2 linked regions of the Homo sapiens genome follow. The protein of the gene in region 1 purifies or fractionates together with the protein of each later gene. This does not show direct contact. Each region holds a gene or a part of one and is shown in the gene's direction. Other genes may lie near its edges.

Evidence for each region.
Region 2: the proteins of MUCL1 (region 1) and PDIA5 purify together in Homo sapiens (co-immunoprecipitation; 3 studies listed by BioGRID and IntAct, with this or other methods). This does not show direct contact.

Annotation. Positions count from the first base shown.
Region 1 is NC_000012.12:54,849,342-54,858,674, forward strand, and holds MUCL1 (mucin-like protein 1 precursor), read left to right. Parts: upstream 1-5,174; 5' UTR 5,175-5,241; coding exon 5,242-5,299; intron 5,300-5,774; coding exon 5,775-5,816; intron 5,817-7,428; coding exon 7,429-7,551; intron 7,552-8,851; coding exon 8,852-8,901; 3' UTR 8,902-9,046; downstream 9,047-9,333. UniProt on the Homo sapiens protein: May play a role as marker for the diagnosis of metastatic breast cancer.
Region 2 is NC_000003.12:123,138,546-123,148,073, forward strand, and holds part of PDIA5 (protein disulfide-isomerase A5 precursor), read left to right. Parts: intron 1-6,976; coding exon 6,977-7,047; intron 7,048-7,553; coding exon 7,554-7,714; intron 7,715-9,528.

The DNA of each region.
Region 1 (9,333 bases):
ATGCATAAAATTTTCACAAATATATAATTACCAAGTAAAAATGGCAGTTATCTCATTGTTTTGGCCCATCTAGAGACTTTTACTTTCTTATGTATACTTCTATTTTAATTTTTATAAAAAATACAAAAATAATCTTGTAATGGGAAAGAGCAGTAGTAAAAAGTTTTGGAGCTATGTCATCCATTGAATTTCACTCTTAAAATTACATATCCACTAGTATATAGTGTATACATATATAGAGAGATAAAGTTTGGTTATACATACAATATATGATTTTATATAGAATATATTGCATAATATTTGACAGATGTTACAAAATGTAGATATTAGAAAGATCTCAGTTTAATTTTAATATAACATGCCCTATATATAATGCTGTTCATTTTAATGAACAAATTTGGTGTTAGATCTGAGTATATTTTATATACTCACATATGATACTTTATGCTTGAATTTTAGATCCCTCTTAAAGTGATAATATTAAAAACCTACAATTTGAAGCATTATAATATTATCAAAATCCAATAACTTCAGAAAAATAAAGCCTCAAAACTGTTGTAGGCCCCACGGGGCTCCCCTACACCCTGAGCCTTCATGTCCTCTGCACACTCAGGCCACTGGTTGCAGATTGTCTGCTTTCCCAGCAACTGCAGACCAGCTTCAGCTTGGGCAAACCAGCACTGTTCTCTGCCACCCAGAGGGCTGCTTCTCCAATGAGTTCTGAATATCAGCTTCAGGGAGGAGGGCTCTTTATTGTTGTCCTTCCTTGGATAGTCTCCCTCAACCCTAGGGTTTCATAGAACTTCCTTATAACTACTCATTTTTTTTTATTATTACACTTTAAGTTTTGGGTACATGTGCACAACGTGCAGGTTTGTTACATATGTATACATGTGCCATGTTGGGGTGCTGCACCCATTAACTCGTCATTTACATTAGGTATATCTCCTAATGCTATCCCTCCCCCCTCCCCCCACCCCACCACAGGCCCCGGTGTGTGATGTTCCCCTTCCTGTGTCCACGTGTTCTCATTGTTCAGTTGCCACCTATGAGTGAGAACACACGGTGTTTGGTTTTTTGTCCTTGCGATGGTTGGCTGAGAATGATGGTTTCCAGCTTCATCCATGTCCCTACAAAGGACATGAACTCATCATTTTTTATGGCTACATAGTATTCCATGGTGTATATGTGCCACATTTTCTTAATCCAGTCTATCATTGTTGTACATTTGGGTTGGTTCCAAGTCTTTGCTATTGTGAATAGTGCTGCAATAAACATACGTGTGCATGTGTCTTTTTAGCAGCATGATTTATAATCCTTTGGGTATATGCCCAGTAATGGGATGGCTGGGTCAAATGGTATTTCTAGTTCTAGATCCTTGAGGAATTGCCACACTGACTTCCACAAGGGTTGAACTAGTTTACAGTCCCAACAACAGTGTAAAAGTGTTCCTATTTCTCCACATCCTCTCCAGTACCTGTTGTTTCCTGACTTTTTAATGATTGCCATTCTAACTGGTGTGAGATGGTATCTCACTGTGGTTTTGATTTGCATTTCTCTGATGGCCAGTGATGGTGAGCATTTTTTCATGCGTTTTTTGGCTGCATAAATGTCTTCTTTTGAGAAGTGTCTGTTCATATCCTTTACCCACTTGTTGATGGGGTTGTTTGTTTTTTTCTTGTAAATTTGTTTGAATTCATTGTAGATTCTGGATATTAGCCCTTTGTCAGATGGAGAGATTGCAAAAATTTTCTCCTATTCTGTAGGTTGCCTGTTCACTCTGATGGTAGTTTCTTTTGCTGTGCAGAAGCTCTTTAGTTTAATTACAACCCATTTGTCAATTTTGGTTTTGTTGCCATTGCTTTTGGTGTTTTAGACATGAAGTCCTTGCCCATGCCTATGTCCTGAATGGTATTGCCTAGGTTTTCTTCTAGGATTTTTATGGTTTTAGGTCTAACATGTAAGTCTTTAAATCATCTTAAATTAATCTCTGGGATGCAAGGCTGGTTAACATATGCAAATCAATACACGTAATCCAGCATATAAACAGAACCAAAGACAAAAACCACATGATTATCTCAATAGATGCAGAAAAGGCCTTTGACAAAATTCAACAACCCTTCGTGCTAAAAACTCTCAATAAATTAGGTATTGATGGGACGTATCTCAAAATAATTAGAGCTATCTACGACAAACCCACAGCCAATATCATACTGAATGGGCAAAAACTGGAAGCATTCCCTTTGAAAACTGGCACAAGACAGGGATGCCCTCTCTCACCACTCCTATTCAACGTAGTGTTGGAAGTTCTGGCCAGGGCGATCAGGCAGGAGAAGGAAATAAAGGGTATTCAATTAGGAAAAGAGGAAGTCAAATTGTCCTTGTTTGCAGATGACATGATTGTATATCTAGAAAACCCCATCGTCTCAGCCCCAAATCTCCTTAAGCTGATAAGCAACTTCAGCAAAGTCTCAGGATACAAAAATCAATGTGCAAAAATCACAAGCATTCTTATACACCAATAACAGACAGAGAGCCAAATCATGACTGAACTCCCATTCCCAATTGCTTCAAAGAGAATAAAATACCTAGGAATCCAACTTACAAGGGATGTGAAGGACCTCTCCAAAGAGAACTACAAATCACTGCTCAATGAAATAAAAGAGGATACAAACAAATGGAAGAACATTCCATGCTCATGGGTTGGAAGAATCAATATTGTGAAAATGGCCATACTGCCCAAGGTAATTTATAGATTCAATGCCATCCCCATCAAGCTACCAATGACTTTCTTCACAGAATTGGAAAAAACTACTTTAAAGTTCATATGGAAGCAAAAAAGAGCCCACATTGCCAAGTCAATCCTAAGCCAAAAGAACAAAGCTGGAGGCATCACACTACCTGACTTCAAACTATACTACAAGGCTACAATAACCAAAACAGCATGGTACTGGTACCAAAACAGAGTTATAGACCAATGGAACAGAACAGAGCCCTCAGAAATAATGCCACACATCTACAACCATCTGATCTTTGAGAAACCTGACGAAAACAAGCAATGGGGAAAGGATTCCCTATTTAATAAATGGTGCTGGGAAATCTGGCTAGCCATATGTAGAAAGCTGAAACTGGATCCCTTCCTTACACCTTATACAAAAATTCATTCAAGATGAAAAACTACTCATATATCAAACTTTAGAAATTCTTTGTATCACACTTTTCCTGTTTAATCCACTGTGCAGTTTTGATCTCTTAAGGGGACCCTAACTGATACATATGTTTAATCTTTTTTTCTTAGCAAGCCAGTCATTGTCTTAAGTCTGTGTGGTGGGTCTCTGCCTCTGTGGAGGGACACAGTGGGCTCTCAATAAGTAACCGTCTCCTAGAAGACCCTTCAATTTGTGTCAGTGTTGTTGGGAGGCCTTACAAAGGTGACTGTAGGGCTTATTCCCTACGGGGTATAATCAGATAGTATCTGTCTTTTAAGTCTTCCTTCCTTCTTTATCTCTTTTAAATATTTCTCTTTCACTTTTCCTTCAGAATATGTGTTTTTTTCTTAGCGTTATTTATGCTAATCTCTCACCATATTATGACAACTCTGTGCCTCATGGAAGATATGAGTTTACCCAGGACAAGGACACTGACTTGTCTTTCCGAGGTTGAAGACCACTCCCTCAAGAATTTCCTCTGCCTTTCTTCATTCACCTGATGGGGACCTCTTAGCATGTTTTGGGGAGTAGACTGGTTGCTGTTATCAGACAGACTCTCCAATAAAAGGAGAAATAGATGTTCAGTGCTCTTCCAGATTACAGAGATCCTTCCAATGAGGGTATGACCCAAAAAGGCATACTTTGTATGAAGAAGAAGAACTTTAAAGCAAGGGAAATCTTTAAAATGTAGAGAATTCCCTATGATTCTGGGTATTCCAAATGTTCATCACCCCTCTTTGAGGCCTCAGTTGGGTCCAGCACTTGATTGTGCTGTAAATGTGGATTGTTTTCCTCCCTTGCTGTCTTTACTTAGCAGCTTGGCTCCATTATGACAAAGGGCAAGTAGATTGATGGAACTTGGGGCAGTGCTGGGCCCTACTCAACAACTGCAGAGAAGTCTGGATGACCATATTCTACATGCACTCACCATTGCTTTCCTTCAGACTGACCATTTCCTTTCCGTTGCATTATCCAAATATACCACGTTGTTGATTCCTCAGCTCCTTAAGAGTCTGTTCAAATATCACCTATTCAGTAATGCCTTTTTTGGTCACCTTATATAAAATTGCTCCCCATTTTCCATCTCTAAACTCTCCTTTCTTCTTTCCTGCCTTCTTTTTTTATTAGGCCTTATCACCTCACACATAATACATTGTGTTTTCTCTTTCTTTACTTTTTTAGTGTATGAATTCCTGCAAAACCATGTATTAAATAAAATTTTTGTGTGCTTTGTTCGCTGTTATTTTTCTAACATCTAGCATTGTGTCTGGCATACAATAATGCTCAATGAATGTTTTTTGAATGAAAAAATTGATTAAATGGATGCATGAATTAACAAATGTTAGTTTATTCTGTATACTTACTCCTTGATTTTGAATTTTTATACAATGGTTGCTAAATCCAGTAAGGTCATAGTTCGTTCTTTAGATCATTCAGTGTTGGACTCACTCTGCACCAGTGTCAGATGACCTAATTACATGTTCAGGAGGGAGGCCATGACTCGAAGAATGCACAGCCTGAGTTACACCGGATGGTCTTTGGATCAGGCTGCTCTACCCTGATTATTCCCCTAGGGGGAGACAGAGGTCTAAGCACTCTGTAAGTGTATGACTCCTAGAATCTATGAAAAGAGCACTGCAGATTTCAGGAAGGCTGGTTATGGGGCATCTCCAACCTGTCATAGGAGCTGGTAATTATGGAGACACTATACCCTACATGTAAGAGGATGCCTGGAAGAGAAGTTGCCTGGAGCATATTTAACATGAGAGACTCGAATTGAAACCTGTTTAGCCAGAACCAATGATTTGAATTCACAACCTTTCCAAAGGGCCCCTGGCTGTGTTGTTGATTCTCCAGTGGTTTGTGTCCCAACGTTTCCTGGCATTACCTAACCTGGATTCTGGTTGACAGCTCCTGATTGGTGCCCTCTGCATATATATTGTCAGGATGTGGAATCCTGAAGTCAGCGCCTTGCCTTCTCTTAGGCTTTGAAGCATTTTTGTCTGTGCTCCCTGATCTTCAGGTCACCACCATGAAGTTCTTAGCAGTCCTGGTACTCTTGGGAGTTTCCATCTTTCTGGTCTCTGCCCGTAAGTAAAGATTCTTACCTGAACATAAGTTTTGTGGGAATATACATAAAATATCTCCTCTAAAGATGTGGGCTTATGGTTGCTTAGAATGTGCTTTTTTACCTCTCCTAACTTGTTCTATCACCATTTTGACTGACCGTTCAAGATGGAGATGGTTATCCTTAGGCTCTTCTTAATTCAGTCAGATCTTACTTCAATAATACCTTGGAACCCAAGTTTATTGTTACTGTTAGTAAAATATGTTCAAGAAGGTAATCAGAGGTTTATTTCGGGAAAGGAAAAATGACCACATATTAGGTTTTTATTGGTTTTCATGGGTTTTATCTTATCTGTGCACTTGTTCTTCCTCAACTGGTACACCAAGGACTGAGGGTCTTCCATTGTAAAGTCTGGAATATTGTCCATATTCTCTCTTACCTCCATCCTCCAAACTGGTATTCAGCTAACATCTTAATTTTTCCTTCTTCTCTTTCAGAGAATCCGACAACAGCTGCTCCAGCTGACACGTATCCAGCTAGTGAGTCTGCACTTGAATGTCATCTCTTTCCAGCAATAACCATTTTTCACTTCCAGCCTCATGTCAAACAGCCAGTTTCCATGTGGATAGTCTTTGTTATAAGGAATCCTAAGCAAAAGTCTGTGAAAGCTATATTCCTGATTTTAAAATTCACCACAAACATAGTGAATCTGCTTATTTCTTATACATTCTTAGAATATATGAAATCTAGGCCATAGACTTATACAAATGTGGACTTATTATTCATTGTTTTCCAGCATAAGGCACAAGAGCATGAGGTCTGATGTTGTAGCCTGAGAATTTTTGAGAGATGCCTCTAATAAATGGAAGGACTGAATATATAGCCAGTGTCAAAAAGAGACCAGTGGGTCTCAGAATTTGAAGTGATATGAAAATAAGTCCATTTGGATCACAAGTGAGGGTGGTGTGTGGGATGTGGAGTGCAGGGGTCAGTTCTAAGCTTTACTCTTTGTAATGGTCTATATTCCTTATTCCCAGGCTGATGTTTGTTTCCCTTCTCTAACCTGAAAACGAAGGTGGTAGACCAAAGCCTTTAGTCATTCTTGGGCTTCTCCCAAAGTGTTCTTCACATTCTGTACTGTGTGTGTGTTGTGCCCATGCACAAGTTAAGGGGGTCTGTCTTTATCCTTCGCATCTTGGGAATTTGCATCCTTTGGTCACAAGGGCATTAGCTTTAGTCAGACCTCACATATATTTTTCCTGCCATGTGAGGCCCCATTTAAAAAATATTTTCTCTCTTAAATAAAGCCTGAGACAGCATGGATAGAGTGTGGGTTTGGAGGTGGAGCTACTTATTTGCTGAGGTGAGTCTAACTCACAAATGTGGGGCCTGACTCTTGATCCTTATCAATAGCTCTTGTGTAAGGTCTAGAGAGAGAGAGATAATTTTCAAAACTCTTACCCAGTCCCCTTTGTACATATAGTAATTAATGGGGAATTTTTTTACTATCAGAAGTGTATTAATTTCTCCTGTTATATCTAATGTGGCTCTCACAATTACCTCTCTAATAAACAGAGTCCAAGCTGCCACAGAGGGTGAGACAAATATGGCTCTTTTCATTCTAGAACCTGATAGAAGATATCTTACTGCACTCTAAGACAGGAGATATGACTCTAAGATGAGATACGTCTTCTTAGTCTGCCTCCTCCTTCCCTCTAGAGTTCATCCCTTTACTCATCCTCATTCATGCTACATTGGAATGTATGCTGTCTTAGGTTATTCTGTGGGACGGCTTCAGAATGTCAGGCTACTAGAGATTTCCTTATTGCTTCTGAGCAGTAGTCCCTGTGAATAGGAACACTCGTGGCCTTGGTCTTTTGTGCTCATACCTGGGACAAAGTACTTGCTTGTCTCTTTAATCAGTGTCATTGCCCTTGGAGGGAAACCCCAAATTCTTTCTGTCCCAGCAAAGACAAGACAGGGAAGGATGAAGCACAAGGAAAGTAGGCAGGTAGGCTAAAGGTAAGACAGAACTGATGACAGATTTGCAGAGATGAATTCAGGATGAGGAATGTATGTCTACCCCTGGGTGGGATAAATTTTGTTCCAGAAGGAGTCAGTCTCACCTAGAGCTTTTCCTTCTAATTTCAGCTGGTCCTGCTGATGATGAAGCCCCTGATGCTGAAACCACTGCTGCTGCAACCACTGCAACCACTGCTGCTCCTACCACTGCAACCACCGCTGCTTCTACCACTGCTCGTAAAGACATTCCAGGTAGCAAGACTCCTCCATCTGTGTGCTTCCTTTATGTGGCTCCTTGATTCCTTGGGTTCTCTATTCTCACAGAGACTCTATTTTTGAGGTCAGGGAGACCTCTTCTTTACATTGTTCTCTAAATCCTTGTAGTTTCTAAGTCAAGTCAACAGATAAATATCAGAGGAGTCAGGAGGTTACCTGACTCCTAGGTTACCAATATTACCTGAATGGATCTTGAAATATTGACATTTATTAAGGAAAACTCTTCCTTAGTAGAAACATCATTGGAAAGACCAAAATAAGTGTCTCCATGAAGCTAGGTAACTGCTTATTATTATTATTTTTTTAAATCAGGTAGTGTGTGTGTGTGTGTGTGTGTGTGTGTGTGTGTGTGTTTAAATCAGGCAATTTAAAAATCAGGTAATCAAGTAAAATCTTTGTTTCCTTTAGAGAATTTTCCCAAAATAGAAAATAGCTTAACAATGAATGATTTTACAATCTTTCTTGAGGCAGATTATTTTGAGTGCCATTCAGGGTATTTCTGGGGTTTTGGACATTCACTGAGGATCAATGTACATTCCTCCTATTCTGGGTTCACTTTTTCTTGACCTTTAACTTTCACATAGTATTGATTACAACATTTATTCAATCGGAACATATGCCAGGAACTGTGTCATAAAATTTACATATGTATTATAATTTAAATATCACAGTCATTCTATGAAGTAAACATTTTAAAGATGAGGAAATGGAAGAGTTGCAATGAGAAACTTTCCTTTGAGCACACAGGCAGAAAGAAAAAGGAAATTGCACTCAAACAAATGGAGAGTTACAATGAGAAACTTTCCTTTGAGCACACGGGCAGAAAGAAAAAGGATTCAAATTACACCCATACAATCAAAGTCCCTAAGAAATTTTCTTCAGATATTGCTTTATACTTTTTCATGTCTGAATCAGTGCTTGGAACTCTGTCAATAATCTGTAAAGTAGACTGTGAGTGAGAAAATGGCTTTTCTCTCTTACCAGAAGAAGGCTGGATCTCTGTGCCATATTATAGGAAAACTCATACGTATTGACTTTCTTCTAGTTCTCTCTAAAGTTCCAACCTACCTGGGCTTCCGTCTAAGGCTATATTTCCAAAATCTTTAAGGACAGAAATTGGTTGTTTATCTTCCCGTAATAACAATCCCATGTTCCTTTCGAATCCCCTGAGTTTAGTTGACATTTGACACTTGTTAGTTCCTTCAGATTCTGAAGAATAAATCCACATTCTTCATCCTTTGTCGAAGCCCCTTGACAATATTTTTTTCTCTTGCAGTTTTACCCAAATGGGTTGGGGATCTCCCGAATGGTAGAGTGTGTCCCTGAGATGGAATCAGCTTGAGTCTTCTGCAATTGGTCACAACTATTCATGCTTCCTGTGATTTCATCCAACTACTTACCTTGCCTACGATATCCCCTTTATCTCTAATCAGTTTATTTTCTTTCAAATAAAAAATAACTATGAGCAACATAAAAATGGTATTTCTTATGGGCTATGGGGCGGTTGTCCATTGTTTAGACAATCCAAGTGACAGACACTTCAGATTTTACCTAATACTTCCTTGTGCTCCTACTAATAACTAGACTTCCTATTTATTTCAGTTTCTTTTTTAAATAAGACACTAGTTTTGGGCATAATACTAAAGACTAGAGATTTCTCTAATATGGATAGACTAATCAATACTTACTAGGTACAAATGTTCAGTTTGATTCTGCCAAACTCTCCTATCAACTGACAGAATTTTTTTCTTACCTGTA
Region 2 (9,528 bases), on another chromosome or scaffold:
AGTAAAATTTTAAAAGCTTGTTTATCCACATTTTGTGCTAACATAAAGGAAAAAACAAACTCTTTGCATAAGAAGAGGGGTCATGTGATGAATAGAGGCATCTGTGAGTGTGTGAGTCTGCCCCAAGATGCCTGTAACTGTCAAGGAGTCCACTTTGGTGCTTATGCGTTTGGAAGCCTTAAAAGAGCTCTGAGGTCTCTGTAGGCCCCTCCACGCCCGTATTTCTGCTGGCATTTGTAGGAAACCCTCCCTCCCTGGCATGCCCCAAGCCAAATTCCAAGCAAGGCAGGAACCAGGCTCTTCTAGAGGCCCAAGTACTACCCCAGTACCCTGGCTACCAGGGAGCTTTACAGATTAATCTGGTCCTCTGGGAAATTCTGGTTCCAGCATCCAGGAAAGCCCTATAGCTGGCCTGTAGTAAAATCATAAGTATAATTGAATTTAATGAAATCCAGACGAATCCGAGGGCTTTGGGTTGACAGGAAGCCAACATTCCCACAGCCAGAAAAGAGCATGATCAAGGAGTTGATGTGCAGACCTCTATGCCAGATCACGGAAATCGGAGTAAGTGCACTTACACAGATGATAAAAGCCCAACAAGGAAGTTTAGCAATAAAACTTAATGGCCTCTCAAATCACAATCAGGACACAAAATGCAGTGGGCCGGAGTCCCGCTCCCTGCATGTAACCCTCCTCCTCCAACTGTCCCACAGCCAGGGACATCATGAAGGCCAGGCCCAGGAGGCTGGTCCTCAGGTCACCGCCAGCTCTATCCATCACCCACGGCTCCCCAAGACAGGAGGGTGTCTGGAAGGGAGGTGTTTTCTCAGCCAGACCTTTCTCCTCCTCTGGGCCTGGCCAGGCTCCTCATCTTAAACTCTGTTTGCAGAAGTTTATTGCTTAGCCTTAGTGTCTTATTCAGGGTCAGAGGGAATTGATGCTAGAATTGAAAACCTTAACAATATCAAGAGAATTCTAGGGTATGTATGGGAAACTTTAGAACAGCATCCTTAGATGTTAGAGATTTTGGGAGACACTTTTCTCCTAGTGAGGTGCAGAGGAGGCGCAAAGATGGTAGTGGGGAGGAGAGGAGAGGGGATGTGCATAGTAACTGGCTTGGTTGCCAGTTCTACTAATTAGAGGTGTTTAGTCAAATTAACGACTATTTGAGTGCAAGCCATGACCCTTGCCCATAAAGAATTTAGTCCTGCCAAACCTTGTGTGTACAGGTGTAAACCTAACAACCTAACAAGTCATGAGGCTAATTCATTCAGAAAGCGTGTGGAGCAGCGTGGTCAGTATCAGGAATATGGTGGCCAATTAGACAAGACAGCCGAGCCCCTGCCTGCACATACAGAGCCTCCATTCCAGTTGAGGGGATGGGCAGGGAACAAGTGAGCAGATTACTCCAGCTGCTTTGAGTACAATTGAGAAAATAAAACAGGATATTGGGAGAGGGCATGATAGCATGAGGCGCCTTTGGGATAGGTGGTCAGGGAGGGTCTCCTAGAAGGTGAAATTTGAGTGGAAGCCTGAGTGGCTGATGTAAAGAGGGGTAAGCCGCATACAGACCTGGGGGAAGATGTTGGTATGTATGCTCCAGGTGGGTAGGAAAGAACATGTTCCAGGGCCCTGGGGTAGAAATGAACTTGGTGTGTTGGGAGAAGAGGAGAGCCAGAGGCTGCAGTAGAAGTGACCTGAGTTGAGGTTGAAGGTAGGCAGGACTCAGCTTGTGTGGGGTCTGTAGCCATAATAAGTTTGGATTTGAATCTACCTGTGATAGGAAGCCACTGTAAAGTTTTAAGCAAAGGGATCTGATCTGATTGATGTTTTGAAAATATACCCCGGCTGCCCTTAAATATCAGAAGACAGCAATATCACAGTCACAAAGCAACACAAAATTAAATGCCATAGAAATATCTGAATAAGAAGTATTTTGTAATTAGAAGAGAGACAGATCATTCGATGGGGCTACAGTGAACTGGGAAGACTCAAAGCAGGGGCCAGAACAAAGGTAGGATTGCGAGGGGTTGTCCAGGGTGGATGTTGCCTATCCATCAGAGCAGGGGCTGGGAGGAAGAGGTGGCAGGTGGTGATGGCCCTGGGGGATTTGTCACTTCGTCTTCCAGAGCTACAATTTCTGGCACTGTAAAACGGACCTACTGAGCTGTGTCATGTGTCTGGTGGGGCTGCTGCGATAGAGTGTGGAAGCCCAGCACAGACAGCGAGTGCTTTCCTTATAGAGGTGGGGAATTCTGGGAGCTGAGGCCAAAGCCCAGGAGACAGCCATGTGTGCGAGCTGCGGAAACTGGAGGTCTCCTGGTATTGACCCCAGCTGGCTTCCCATGCCTGTGGCAGACGTTGCAAGTTGGTCACAGCTCCTCTTCCCAGTGAGCGAGTTCTCAGACTCAGCCTCTGTCTCAGGCCCACCGCTGATGGAAGCTGGCAGGTGGAATGAAACCCACTTGCCACCCTGGCAGGGCAGTGGCATCAAAGGCCTGGAGCCTGATAAAGGGATGAAGTAAACCTCCCTACCAGCACACAGTGAATTCTCATCTTCAGGAGTCCTGCCACATCAACAGGGTCACTTTAGAAAGCAACAGTGATTCTCAGTGAATGGCAATGGCTGGCTTTTCTTTGTCTTCCCTCCCCTGATTCCTACTCCAGTCCCACTGTCCATCTTGACCATGGGCCCTGCCAGCAGCTGGCCTAACAGCACCATCCATATCATGGAGGGTATGGGGAGAGTGGTCAAGGGAGCCTCTCTTTCCTGCCTCTCCCACCTCCCTGGAGGCCACCCAGGGCCTCATGCCTGCATTTCCCGAGGCCTCCCAGTGTGTCCTCCACTATGTGCTGCTGGGCTGAGTCAGTCTGTCTCAGGGCAGTGGACCTTTGGGGACTTTGCATGGACCACTCACATCTCTCCAGAGCAGGTTGAACTCTCGGGCGATAGACTCACCGCCACAGGAGAGTCTCTGAGCTTCCTTCTCCTGCAGTTTGTTCATGCAGGGTGAGCCCCCTCACTCTGCCCCAGTCAGGGGAGGTCAGCCTGAAAGCAGGAGAGTGGGGGGCTCACCTTGGACAGGTGCAGGGAGCAGCAGCTTGGGGTTGCCCCCGGGGCAGGGAGATCCCTTTAAGAGCTGTAGAACTTTTTCATCCTGACCGTGGCCCCAAAGGATGGTTTACTCCACTCTATTTTAGTGAGAAGCAAAAAAATAATTTTTTAATCTTAATATACCTCATATTAAGTCAGTAGAACCTTCTGCAGATTATTCCATTTACTCCTGACATGTGGGCCAGTGTGGAAAGACATCTAAGCCTGGGCCCCTGTGCATCAGCTCTCCGTGTTCTTCCGCTTTGCCTCCCATTGGACAGTGATTGGCTTGGAGTCCGGTGGTCTCCTTTGTCCTGGGCTCCTAACCCCAGTTCTGTGAGCAAGTTCAGGTAGTCCAGGATCCCTCTGGAATTGTACATACATGTGGAGTATATGCATCAGTGTGGGGAAGGGGAGGAGAGGCTTTTGTGACAATCTCAAGAATGTCAGTGCCTGGGAGGCACAGACTCCTGCCCCAGCTCTCCCTGGTCCCTCTTGGAGTTCTTCCTCTCACTGCTGAGGTGGGGGTCGCTGCCTAGAGGGAGCGGCCTGCCTGCTGTCCCCACTGGATCGCGGGCTGCACTTGTCCCATTGGGAGCAGGCTCAGGGAAATACAAATAGCACTGCGTGCTTTTATGTTTCAGGTGCATCCTATTAAATGGGCTTTTGCGGTTGCCCCTGGGAATCTGCATGTAATCGGTGTGTAAAATTGTTTCTGAGGGGAAAACAAACAGCCAACTTACCAAAACAACCCTTTTGTGACTGGATTATTTAGGTAACACATGGCTCATGATGATGCTAAATGTTCATTTCTGGAAAGTGATATTCTTGTCATTCAAAATAATGATGACCTTGATACCTCTACAGCTTATGATGGGGGGATCCCAAGTGGGGTCTAGTCAGACCGTGAACTCCCAAAGTCATCTAACCCTATGTGCATTTTTCTGGAAGAAGGGTTTACCACTTTGATCATGATCTCCACAATGTCTGACTGCAGGGGACATTAAGAATATCTGCTGTGGAGAACAAGGCCAGGAACAGCCAGGCTGTCTTGCCCAGCCCAGGGGCAGCCTCTGGGGGGGCCGAGCTCAGCAGTCCCAGAGGAGCCCTTAGGAGCACTTTTGGGGCTATGTGCCTTGCTCAGCCCTGGCAGCGGAATTCTGCACTGCTGAATTGAGCATGGGGACGTCCTCATTTCTCTGAGGCTGCCCCTGCCCTCCTGACTGGGTCCTCTGTCCTCTGTCTCTAACTTGCCCACATGTGTCCTTTCATCTGCCACCTCCAGGAGGTCTTCTCAAGCCCCTGGTCAACCCAGGAGTTGTCTACTAATTATTTAATTAGGTCTCTTCATTGCTGACCAGTAAATATTTATCATGTATCTATTAAATGGTGATCCTTTTGCTTCATGGGGAGGTACAAGGTAAAAAAAAACCTCAGGTCCCACCTTTAGAGAGTCACCATCTGGGGCTGGGCATGGTGGCTCACACCTGTAATCTCAGCACTTTGGGAGGCCAAGGTGGGTGGATCACAGGTCAGGAGATCGAGACCATCCTGGCTAACACAGTGAAACCCCATCTCTACTAAAAATACAAAAAATTAGCTGGGCGTGGTGGCACATGCCTGTAGTCCCAGCTACTCGGGAGGCTGAGGCAGGGGAATCACTTGAACCCAGGAGGCGGAGGTTGCAGTGAGCTGACATCGTGTGCCACTGTACTCCAGCCTGGGTGACAGAGCGAGACTCCATCTCAAAAAAAAAAAAAAAAAAGAGAGGCACTGTCTGGTACCTAGAGCCCAGCATGATGAGTGTGTAGTGTGGGTACAATATGTAATAGGGCTACAAGCAGCTGCCGGCTCCCCTGGGGCTGCCAGGGCAGGTGGAGTGCTCTTCCTCTGGTTCATCCCTTGAAGGCATCATGTGTGCCACTCTATTCCCCTCTGGACCAAAGACCATGGTCCTCTCTGTCATTATGCTGGAAGATTCTAAGGGCTGATGCCTTTTCTACCCTTTCTTCTGCATCATAGCCCAACAGGAGTAGGCAGCTCCCTAGATAATGGCAGCAGAGGTGCCTGTATACCCAGCAGTTCCTCCTCTTCTTGTTGTGGAGCCTCCCACTTGAGGGTTAGCAGTGTCTCTCTTCCTTGGATCCACCTGGGAAGAGCTGACATGTTGATGTGGCTAAGCACTGTAGCCACTCCCTGGGCTGCATTCCATGAGGGTCAGTGCCCTTGACCGAGTCATGTCTCCAGTGCTCTGTCCAGAGGAGGAGCTTCACAACACTGCCTGGGAGCTCAAGGATCAGTTTGGTTTTCTGTTATCAGTTAAGTGGGGAGTAGCCACTCCGGGGTCCCTTGTCCCTGGGAGGGACAGGGTGAGGATGAGCTGAGGAAGCCAGGTACAGGCAGGAGTGAAATGGAGAGATTAAGAACGAGACAGGTTCATGTCTCACCTGGAGCTGAGTTCTGCAGAAATGGCCTTGGAGGAGGAGACAGGAGCTTTCACCCCTGCCGGGTGCTCAGCTGGAGGCAGGAAAGCCGATTCCGTAGCTCAGTGGGAGGTCTCCTCTGATTACACTGTTTGACTTTCTGTCTTGCTTTCTTCTTGTCTTTCTTTTTCCTAACAATCAGTAGTAGAATTATAGCGTTCTCAGCTCCCACACAGTGGCACACCCCTGAGAAGGTTGAGTCACGACCTGTCATCCGCTGATCCTAGTTAATGCATGGTCCCCGCACAGCCAGGCTTACCTTCTGAGCAGCCTCCATCCTGAGCCAGTCTGCAGACCCCTCACCTCCCAGTCCCTCCAGCATCAGAGGCCAGAAAGTACTCTTTCTATTAAAATGAAAACAATGTACAAATGTCAAGGTCTGTCATTTACACAAAGTGCTTAATTTCTTTTTAATGCATCAAATTTTATTATTTCTGACATCTTACTGTGTTCATGCAGCTGTAAGAAAAGCACAGAGCAGGCTGGGCGCGGTGGCTCACGCCTGTAATCCCAGCACTTTGGGAGGCCGAGGTGGGTGGATCACGAGGTCAGGAGATCGAGACCATCCTGGCTAACACAGTGAAACCCCATCTCTATTGAAAAAGTACAAAAAAAATTAGCCGGGCGTGGTGGCGGGTGCCTGTAGTCCCAGCTACGTGGGAGGCTGAAGCAGGAGAATGGCATGAACCCAGGAGGCGGAGCTTGCGGTAAGCAGAGATGGCGCCACTGCACTCCAGCCTGGGAGACAGAGCAAGACTCTATCTCAAAACAAAAAAAAAAGAAAGAAAAGGACAGAGCAGTTTCTATCCCAAAAAATTCCCATCATGTCATATGGGGACAATTAGAATGTAATTATGTCCCATACTTATGCTTCTGTGAATTTTTGTGCCCAGCTCAAGGCCTCAGACTGCCTTCTGTCCAGAGAAGATGATGATGGTGATCACAGCATGGTGCCACAACCTACACGCTGCCTGCAGCTAGGGCCTCTCACCAGATGGTTGGGTTTTCAACCCAGCTCTGTGACCATGGCTGTGTATATGGCCTTGGGCAGTCACCTGCCCTCTTGGTGCCTCAATTGTCTAATCCATAGAATGGAGATAATGTCAGTTCCTACTTTGTGGGGTAGTTATGAGGCTGTAAGGCACTGGTCAGTACCTGGCACACCAGTTGCCCGTATTATTTATGCAGTTGTTTTATTTTTGTGTCTGGGGTACCTTCCCACTACCCCAACCCACTTCTGGTGGATTATGCAAAATATTTCTTTTCTTTGAGCTGGTGCTGCTGCTGCTTTTCTCAGGTGTCTGGGAATGGGACTGAGCTGCCTTACAGAGGCGGCGCAGGGGAGCATCCCGAGGGCCTCTGTGCCATAAGAATGGTTTCTCTTGATCTCTCCCCACAGGGTGTGGCCACTGTAAGAAAATGAAGCCGGAGTTTGAGAAGGCAGCAGAAGCCCTCCATGGAGAAGCGGATGTAAGCTTCCTTTCCTTCCCCCTCACCGTTCTCTTTGAAAGAATCACTGACAGGTGGAATCATTATGACTTTCCCCTGCAAGCCCTGCTGCAGCTCCCGTGGTCCGTGGAGGCCAGCAGTACCTCTGTGTGCCCAAGTAGAACATCTTAGACAGATGGGATCCTAGAGGGGGCAGAAAGACTACTGGCCCATGTTCCCGTGCCCATCCAGGTGACCTCTGCCTGCTCCCTCTTTTCTCTGGGACCCTGGCTAACAGGAACAGGTGCCAATCTACTCAACGTGGCTGGTGGGGCAGATTCAAAAGCCTCATCTCAGCTCATAAATGAGAAATGATGGCCGTGCCAATGTTCAGTTGTTCCCTGGGATATGGGAGCCCACTGGGCTAGCCACCCCAGTTAAATTCCAGCAGGTCCAGGATGGGTTGTGGGGGCAGCGTCTGGGCTCCTGTGTTCCACCAGCACCGCATCTGAGGCTGTAATGCATGGTTGGCCTTTCCCCCATCCCAGAGCTCTGGTGTCCTTGCAGCTGTCGATGCCACTGTCAACAAGGCCCTGGCAGAAAGATTCCACATCTCAGAGTTTCCTACGTTGAAGTATTTTAAGAATGGAGAGAAATACGCAGTGCCTGTGCTCAGGACAAAGAAGAAGTTTCTCGAGTGGATGCAAAAGTAAGTGTTACGATCTCAGTAGCACATCCTAACTGCCAGCTGGCGGCCCCTGGAGACCACCTTGAGGAGGTGAAGTAAACTTTATGGTCAATGTCCTGGGCTCATGCCCGTAGGAGTCAAGACGGATCTGACTTCCTCAACCCTAAAACCACCGTTCATATGCTGATCACGTGTCTTGATCAGGTCACTGCTGGCAGTCCTTCTGGACGCAGCTTCATCGACGCACTAAACCGTGTGTTGCTTTTTCTCTGTCTCAGCCTCCTTAGGCCCAGATCTTATTGTCTGCATTTTATTCCACTCCCTTTGAATAAATGAAGGAGACACAGCTCTTCATAGCCAGAGCTAGACTCATTTCGTCCAGGTTTGCTAGTGGTTGGCTGGGCCTCCAGTAATGTCCACAGGGCAGGCTATGGTGGTTTGCAACTGAGGATAAAGATTTTGAAGAGCCCCCTCAGCCTATGTATTAGTTTGCTAGTGTTGCCATAACCAAGTAACAGACCAGGTGGCTCAACAATATAATATAACAATATAACAGAAGTTTATTTTCTTACAATTTTGTTTTGTTTTGTTTTGTTTTGAGACAGTCTCACTTAGTCACCCAGGCTGGAGGCATGATCTCGGCTCACTGCAACCTCCACCTCCCAGGTTCAAGCGATTCTCCTGCCTCAGCCTCCCAGGTAGCTGGGATTACAGGCACATGCCACCATGCCTGGCTAATTTTTTGTATTTTTAGTAGAGACGGGGTTTCACCATGTTGCCCAGGCTGGTCTCGAACTCCTGAGCTCAAGTGATCCACCCGCCTCAGCCTCCCAAAGTGCTAGGATTACAGGCGTGAACCACCATGTGCAGCCTATTTTCTTACAATTTTGGAGGCTAGAAGTCAGAGATCAAGATGTTGGCAGGGTTGGTTTCTTCTGAGGCCCCTCCCCTTGGCCATCTTCTGCCTGTGACTTCCCATGGCCACCCCTCTATATGTATCTGTGACCTAATCTGCTCTTCTTATAAGGACACCAGTCATGTTGGATGAGAGCCCACCCTAATGACCTCATCTTAACTGAATTATCCCTTTAAAGGGATAATTTATCTCTAGATATAGTCACATTCTGAGATAATGGGGGTTAGGACATCAACATATGAATTAGAGGGGGACACAGTTGAACCTATACGGTCTGAGCTACTTTGTTAGGACATCAGTCAGATATGAGGTGTTTATTTAAAGCATAGACTCTGAGACTCTTTTATTCAGGAAGTGTGAATGGGACCCTCAGCCATGGTGTTCTAAGCAACACCAGCTTGTGGAATGGCAGCAAAGTTGCCACTAGATTCAGGGGAGGCCTCTGGCAAGAGATGAATGGACTGATGAGATCCTGGCCTCAGCTTCTCCCACTTTGTCCTGCTCATCCACTGGGAGGATTTGGAAAGTAGCTAGGCCTTTGTCTTAGGGACCAGAGGAAAATGATGGTTTGCCTCTGAAAGGCACAAGGTGCTTGCTTACCCCTCAAGGCCTTCTGGTGTCTGAAGTAAGTGGCTTGTTCACACCCACTTTTCCAGCCTTGCTCTGGTGCCAGGGCTGGTTCACTGGAAAGGACTGGGTGGGGCGGGGGATCTGGCCAGGTCCCTGTGATGCTTGGACTTCTGGTTAGAGAGCCGAGGGAATCCAGAGTGTCGATCATCACTAATCAGTGCTCCAGAGTCTTGGCCACAAACAGCGAGCATGAGGGGCCTCTGTCCTTTCTGTGTGCCACTGCTGCTACTGAGAGCCTGAAAAGCACTCAGGCTAAGTGCTTTCAGGTTTAAATACTTTCTTAAGTGCT